2 linked regions of the Homo sapiens genome follow. The protein of the gene in region 2 interacts with the protein of the main gene of each other region in a pairwise test. Each region holds a gene or a part of one and is shown on either strand. Other genes may lie near its edges.

Evidence for each region. The genes of interacting proteins can lie anywhere in the genome.
Region 1: the proteins of SREK1 (region 2) and CKAP2 interact in a two-hybrid assay, tested with the Homo sapiens proteins (one large-scale study listed by BioGRID).

Annotation. Positions count from the first base shown.
Region 1 is NC_000013.11:52,474,803-52,477,127, reverse strand, and holds the end of CKAP2 (cytoskeleton-associated protein 2), read right to left. Parts: intron 2,234-2,325; coding exon 1,987-2,233; 3' UTR 501-1,986; downstream 1-500. UniProt on the Homo sapiens protein: Possesses microtubule stabilizing properties. Involved in regulating aneuploidy, cell cycling, and cell death in a p53/TP53-dependent manner.
Region 2 is NC_000005.10:66,149,848-66,155,538, reverse strand, and holds part of SREK1 (splicing regulatory glutamine/lysine-rich protein 1), read right to left. Parts: intron 2,077-5,691; coding exon 1,943-2,076; exon of another isoform or gene 1-1,942. UniProt on the Homo sapiens protein: Participates in the regulation of alternative splicing by modulating the activity of other splice facors. Inhibits the splicing activity of SFRS1, SFRS2 and SFRS6. Augments the splicing activity of SFRS3.

The sequences.
Region 1 (2,325 bases), on a different chromosome or scaffold from region 2:
ATCTGGGTTTCCAAAAAATTCAGCGTCAAGATGTTCTTTCATTACTATAGGAAACGAAACATTTTTTTCCTTATTCCAGGATGTTCAATTTACTTTTTTGAGGCTAGCTAGGTAGCTACCTGGAATTTCCCTTGAAGAGACTCAAGATTTTTCCTTTATTACTATACACGGGAAGATCCAAGCGGGCCCTTAAGAGGGGTCCCTGTTATGTCTCTACTGGATGCTTATGCACGGTATCACATCATTTAGCTTGGAACAAACCTAGGGGAGAGATAACATAGCTGTCCTTAAGCACCAGAAAAGGGGTTAGACCTCTGGTTGAATGTTAGAACTAGGAATATTTAGAGACAGATTTTCCCCTCAGGTAAAGGAGGAAAAAAAACACTCTTAAAAACTTGTCCAAACATAAAAGTTGTATCTTGAGTTCTCTAACAGAGGCATTTCAAACTCTGCTATACAGACAAATGAATTATATGGTACAGATATTAAAAAGCTGAGAGTGTATCAAAGCTTAAATTTTATTTCAAAATGGCATATTTTGGGTCAAAGTATGAAAAAACAAGGGCATAGTTATGTTTTTGTTAAAGTGAAAAAAATTAGGTAAAGTTTATGTAAGTAGACTGATGACTTTTGAAAATATATCATTAAGCATGTACTTAAGTGTCAAAAACCTCAAGTCAAATCTTACAATGTATTTCAAAAGCAAAGCTAAAATTCATTCACTGTGGTTAAACTGCATTTCATAAAATATCTGTTGAAATAAACTTCATTAAAACATAATTACACAGATATTTTAATTGTATATATATCAGGTACACGGAATAAAAGTCCTACTCTCTAGAACATGAGAAGTCAATAAATAGAAAAGATATACAAAGTGGAATGAACATAAAAATGACTAAGCATGTGATCTTCACATTCATACAGTTTTTCAACTAATCTTTTACAATTAAAAAGTCATTTATTTGAAACTGTAGAGTTGATATATGCCATATTAGTTTGGAACCTTACAAAACAACTTTAGTGGTGTTATTTATGTGTGGAGAGAAAACTGTGTATGTAACTATCATGTTTCAAGGGACATGACTTAACAGTGAAGTTTTTTATGTTATAGGGAAGAAAACAAGTATTAGTATCAGTTATCTTAGAAATGCTATCTAAACTAGAATGACATTTGTTCAGTATGATATGTTCTTTCCCTAACTCCATTCTAATTGCTTAAAAACTATCAAGTGAAGTTACAAAAGTTAAACCACTAAATGTGGCATCTTTTCTTACACAAAGTATCTTCTCTTAGAAATGCGGTATTTAATTAAGTAAACCTTCTTGGTGACCCCAGTTATAATCAAAAGAGGCCACGAAACTACAGACTACTGACGAAAAGTGTCAGTGCAGACACTTTCCATCAATCAACAGGCAGTCCAAGGGACGCAAGAGAACACAAGTCTGGGTAACATGAATTTGGTAAGAAAGCAGGCTAAACCTCCTGTGTCTTAGTATTCGAAGTGAGTCATTCTATAGAATTTTTGACTAATCTGAGAAAGGCCAAAAAAAAGAAAAAAGTATTCTGTTTAAAGGCAGGGAGGTACATCATAACTTTTAAAAACATGTCAAGGCAAACATACATTTTACCTAGAATACCTCATTTTCTAATTATGCATCATTACTGTACTTATATTTAGTAAAGTGAACAGGGTAGTATTATAACCTGTTTATATTCAAGGAACATAGTAAACTAGCTGACAAAATTTACCTTTCTTAAAGAAAAAACTCAGTTGGTTGAAACTGACAAGGTAGGATTAGCTTTCCAATGTAGAGGACAACTCTTGCCATAACATGAATGTTAGTAAAGGAGCTCACTGCCGTGAATGCTTAGGATACATAGGTACATGGCCAACTCCAGACCTAAGAGCAATATAAAGCTACTCAAAACAAAACACCCCACAAATAATAAAAACCCCATTCCCTAACAGAGCTTTATTTCTCTTATGTTGTATCAGCCTCATAGTACACCCGGCACAGTGCTGCATTAGGGCGGCATACAAAAGCATCAGTTTCTCTTCCCAACTCCGTTAGCTGTTCCAATGAAGACACACAAGGATAATGATCTTTTAACATATCTGGCAATTTAGAAGTTTTCTCTTGAAGACGTCGAGAACGTCTCACTGGTGTTAAAAACTTCAGCTCTTTAAATGCGGAATTTGTTCCATCAAACTGCACCTTTTTTTTCACACTGAAAATTAAAACAATATTCCAGAGTTCAAAAACATGTTAACATTTTTACTCTGTACTTTCATGATATGTACCATACTATATAGCTTGTAT
Region 2 (5,691 bases):
ACTTTTCTTTGGTTATTTCACACTCACTCTGCTATCTTTTTTAGTACAATAATGCACTATTTCTTTGCTTGTAGTGCATAATCAGTATTTTAACAGCTCACTGTGAAATTCTCGAGGTTCCATAAATTCATCTCTGCCGTATTTAATACAACTAATGAAAAACGTATATCTGAATGTTTCACCAATACCAACTGTAGGTTAGTGTTTCAAAATATTTACTTACTTATAACTAAATTGCAATAAAAGTATGCTTAAATTTTTCTGTTCAAAAACAGTAAAACTGTCCAAGTTGTAATATTAAAAACACTAAAAAGGTACATCTGACTGTGCATTTATTCATCTCTATCAAGTAAAATAAACAATAAAAGGGACATCTACACGCCCATCATCTTGAACATTTATAACAAAATACAGTAGGGCTTCTCAGATATATGAAAGATTCTATGGGAATAAAGCAGGTTTCAACCAAGCAACACTGATAAAATTCTTCCTTCCAATTCAGTAATAAGCTAACACAATAAAAGACCCAGTGTTATTGGTGGTATTAATTTTCTGATATAATTAATATTCCAGTTTAATAAACCTTTTACCTGATTTCTTTTTTCCCATGCAGTTTCTCAGTATGAAATTTCACTACAAAGTTTGTAGAACGAAACCATTCACCAGCTCCTTTCCCACCTCACCAATTTGGGGCTTACTGTAGCCTTACAGATCAGCAGATAAAGATACATTTGGCCAATAATTAACTTTAATCCATTTTTATCTTCCCTACCCACTCTAACCCCCAAGCATGGGAAAGACACTTCCAAATTTATCTGAAAAATACTGAGAATGTCCTATTCTGGGACTTAAAAAATACGAGCCTGGTACTCACTGTATTAGACTGTAATGTTTTTGACATCCCAGAACAGGCATTCTGAAATAAGCATAAAACCTTTAAAGTGCAGCAAACTGCTTATTATATATTATTTTAATGTCAGCCTGGCCACTAAAAGAGGTTTTAAAAATTACATATGAAAGCCCATCAAACTGTTTTCCATAAACCTTTATGTTTAAAACAGTTTCAATCATCCACCAGAGAAAATCTACTTTAAGACATTTTAATTTATAATAACCCAATTCTAAAATCCTGTACACATGCTAGTCAGTGCTCTGAATAAAAGTTAATTATACACCAGAAGTGTCAAAATTCAGCACAGTCTATTATACGTGAGTGGCTCTGTAAACAGAAGTTACTAAAAAATATTAGTAATAATTAGTTCTTAAAGCAGTTTAGGTCATAAAATTTAATGGATACTTTAAGGCCTTTGTTCCTATCTTCAACAACTACTTCCTTCATGGAGGCTTTGGAAAATTGCTTTCCTTTTTTTCCAACACTCCTCCTGCCCCTTTTTGGGGCCAGTAAAAGAAAACATTAAATTCCAGTTGCAAAGCAAACAATTACATTGAATATAAAATAATGATCTCATAGTAACAATTAAGGTAAATTACCTTAAGAGTGTACTTGAAAGTATAAATTACAAATATTTTCTTATAAATATCACTTAACCCCAATTTGCCAAAATGTGTACACTATTTTCATTTGTAATAGTATTAATATTGAACACACAAGGTAAATGCTTGTTTATGCATTTAAAATAATTTCCCATATCAATTATTTTTTAATTTCAGAAAGCTTTCTTTGCAATCTGCAAATTGACTACAGAAAGCCAAAGCAAACCAGAAGCCAATGAATGTTAAATTGTAAAACCTCAAATGTACATGTCATAAATTAACCATTTTAATATTACTATTAGGTAAAAAGGTTTACCTCCTCCAAATTTCATTCTTACTTTCACACACACACCAAGAGTACTGTCTACTTGCCAATCTCTAGGAAAGCTAAAGGCAATAACAGACAGGACAGAAATTCAAATAAGAGGAAAAAAAGCGAGATACCAACCTTCTGCACAAGGAACAACTATCAGAGCTCTGTCAATAAAAACCGTGTTAGTTAGATGCTGGGCCACGCCAACACTTGATGGATCACGAAACTTAACATAACATACTTTGGAGGAAAAAGCAAGAGGTGCGTTGCTGCAAGATAAAAAGAAAAACAATTGAACTAATAAACATTTGCTTGGTTTTATCATTTTCACTTAAAATTTCTTTCTTAACCTTTACATAATCTTACGAAATTAAGACTTTAAAACTTTTTGTTATTAAGGATCATTAACACATAAAACAGTGAAACTTAGTCATTTAATGGTGATTTGTCTACCACAACAGAAGGCAATCCAGGCAGGCCTACTGCCTTACTTGTAAAACTTGGAACTCAAATTAATCAATCCTTAATCCGAGTGAATGTAAAAAAAGCTAATTTAACCCAAAAATTAACTCAAAAAGTGTATCATATGTAAGCAAAAATCCCTTTATAAAAGCTCCAAACCTCAAGATTTCAAATTTTATCATCATTCCAACTCTTCCTAAATGTGTTTCCCAAGCATTTACATCACTAAAAAACTTCACAACAGTCTTAGAAAGAGTCAGGTAGTATGGAATTTAAATTGAGGTATTTTGCATACACCAGAGCTGGACAGTGATGATTTTCCAGACAAAAGATTTTACAAACAAAATCTTACATATTTTATAGGCAACAAAGACTCTAACTGGTCCTACTTGATTCAGTTTAATCCAGGCAGGCCGATACTAAAAATGAACCAGACAAAGCACAAATGAAAGGAACTTTTCCTAAAATGAATACATCCTGTTAGATTCGAAAATATACTATCCTCATGGATAATCATTTTGTCAGCCTATCCATAATTACTTTTCATTAAAATCTGTAATTGTCTTTAGCAGGAAAAAAAAGACCGAACTAAGTACATACGTAATCTGTAACATAGATTTTATATTAAAATCTATTTGAAACATTTAAGATTTTTCACACTAAAAAAAGAGAGATCACTTGAAAAATATATGACTTAATAGTCATTTACTTTTGTTTACAAAACAGGAAAGAAAACTGACTACAATTCCAGAACTAGTAAATCGCAAAGTTAACATCTAATGTCTAATCATCTAATTCCAAACTTCATGCAACTGTAATCATTCAACTAATCAAGAATCTTTAAACCATTCTGACATACTATTAAATTAGCAATTCCACAAACATTAGCCGTTTTTAAAATCCAAAAATCCAGATTTCTTTGTAATTCTTCACGTCCAGGAACAAAACCATCTTTAAACAACGTAGAATAACCACATTAATAACGGTTAAATTTATATATATTTATGCTATTAACCAAACAATGTGATAATAAAATGAATCTGCATTTAGAACTTAAAACTATTTACATTATTAACACAATTAGTAAGGCTAATTAAAGTTGAAAATAAAAGATGTACCGCCGGGCGCAGTGGCTCACGCCTGTAATCCCAGCACTCTGGGAGGCCAAGGCGGAAGGCGGGCGGATCACGAGGTCAGGAGATCGAGACTATCCTGGCTAACACGGTGAAACCCCGTCTCTACTAAAAATACAAAAAATTCTCCAGGCGTGGTGGCGGGCGCCTGTAGTCCCAGCTACTCAGGAGGCTGAGGCAGGAGAGTGGCGTGAACCCGGGAGGCGGAGCTTGCAGTGAGCCGAGATTGCGCCACTGCACTCCAGCCTAGGCAACAGAGCGAGACTCCTTCTCAAAAAAAAAAAAAAAAAAAAAAAAAAAAAGGATGTACCTCTTAGCATCCAACTCACTTCTGCCTAAGGGCATCCAATTCAGGATTCACATCAGCCCTCAACAAAAATCCCTCCTTACCCAACCCAACACCTAAGTCAAAGCAACTTGTGTACTGACACTGAGGTTAACTGTATGCACATCCAGACTTAACTCACCACCTTTACATGACCAAATCACCAATTCAGGCCTCTTGTGAGCTCTAGACTCCCAGGTACAAGTGCCTGCTGGAATATTACACCTTGATGGTCACTAAGTAAGTTGAAAATACATTCATCAACCTCCTTCCTTACCAGTCTTGCCCTCTGTCCCCTGCATTCCATATTTCAGTAAAAGATATCATACTACCCAAGTCCGAAACCTAGGAGTCACTAGTGTGACCATCCTAAGCACTGCCCACCAACTACTTCCAAAGCTCTTTCTAGGTACACAATAAAATTCCATTTTTCTGTTCCTTTAAGTTAGGTGTGGCCATGTAACCTGCTTTGGTCAGTTAAATATGAGCAGAACTGACATGTGTCACTATTCTGAAGAAGCTCTGAGAACCACTGTTTGACTCTTTTCCTCCACCACAACGACTGGCAACATTCAAAAGATGGCTGGGACTCATCAACTTCATCCCAGAGTGAATAACCACAATGAGTAAAGTTCCCACCCCCACGAATTTAGTCTAAAAAATATTTTGTCAGCCAGGCAGGGTGGCTCATGCCTGTAATCCTAGCACTATGGGAGGCAGAGGCAGGCAGATCACCTGATGTCAGGAGTTTGAGACCAGTCTAGCCAACATGATGAAACCCCATCTCTACTAAAAATACAAAAATTAGCTGGGTGTGGTGCCACACACCTGTAATCCCAGCTACTTGGGAGGCTGAGGCACAAGAATTGCTTGAACCCGGGAGGCAGAGTTTGCAGTGAGCCGAGATCACACCACTGCACTCCAGCCTGGGCAAGAGAGTGAGACTGTGTCTCAAAAAAGAAAAAAAAAATTGTCAAACTACAAAGATCTGAAGTTATTTCCAAAACTCTACTTATTCTAACTGATAAATTATCCTTGACCTTTCTGTCCTCATCCAATTGGTCAATATATCCTGCTTAGAGTACCTTGTAAATATTTGTCACATTAGTTTTTTCATCATTCTCATTACCAATGCCTTAATTCAGACCCTCATCATTTCTCATGTGGATTACTTAACAGCTTTTAAGAAATCACACAGCACCCAACCTCAAATCCTTATTAATGGTCTTCCACCAAAGCTCCCACAGTGATCTTTCTAAACACTAAATTTCATTGTGTCACTCCACATATCAAATTTCCTTAAAGGTACTATTCTGTTCTTGCCTCGTCATGGAAATGCACCCAAAAATGATACCTGTGGTTCCAGCAACACATCACAAACATATGGGTCTTCATATATGCTGTTCCATTTGGTTACGATGTCCTCGCTAACTCCCATTTTGAATGCTAATTCCACTCTTCTTCAAGGCTCAAATTTCCAAGTCTTCTGGTAAACCATCTTAAGATACCGCAATCATTAGGTACAGCCTCCTACATGTGCTACCAAGACATTCTATATTGCTTTGGCACAGGCCTTAGCACGGTTTCCTCATGTGAAACCCTCAAAAGATCCTATAAGCTTCTCTAGCCATAAATGATTAGTCACCAGTCTCAAGGGCCCATTTCCCTGGCTGACCAGCAACCTCTAATTTTGGAAGTCAGGCTCGACCAAATGAGCTAGATCAATCAATCAGGTTCTCTCTATTGGGCTGGAAGGTGACTTACAGCAAGCTGTAAGCCAGATGATGAGTACATAATAGGTATGCAAAGAAATGGAGTAGATAGAAACAAACTGAACTGATAATAACCACTGCAGAGAAAGAAGCAGATAGTCATCTTGATTGCTGATACCCTTCTGGTTCCCAGTACTAGTTCCCATGAGGCCTGGCTGTACTACAATCTTTATTTTTCAACGCAGTGAAATC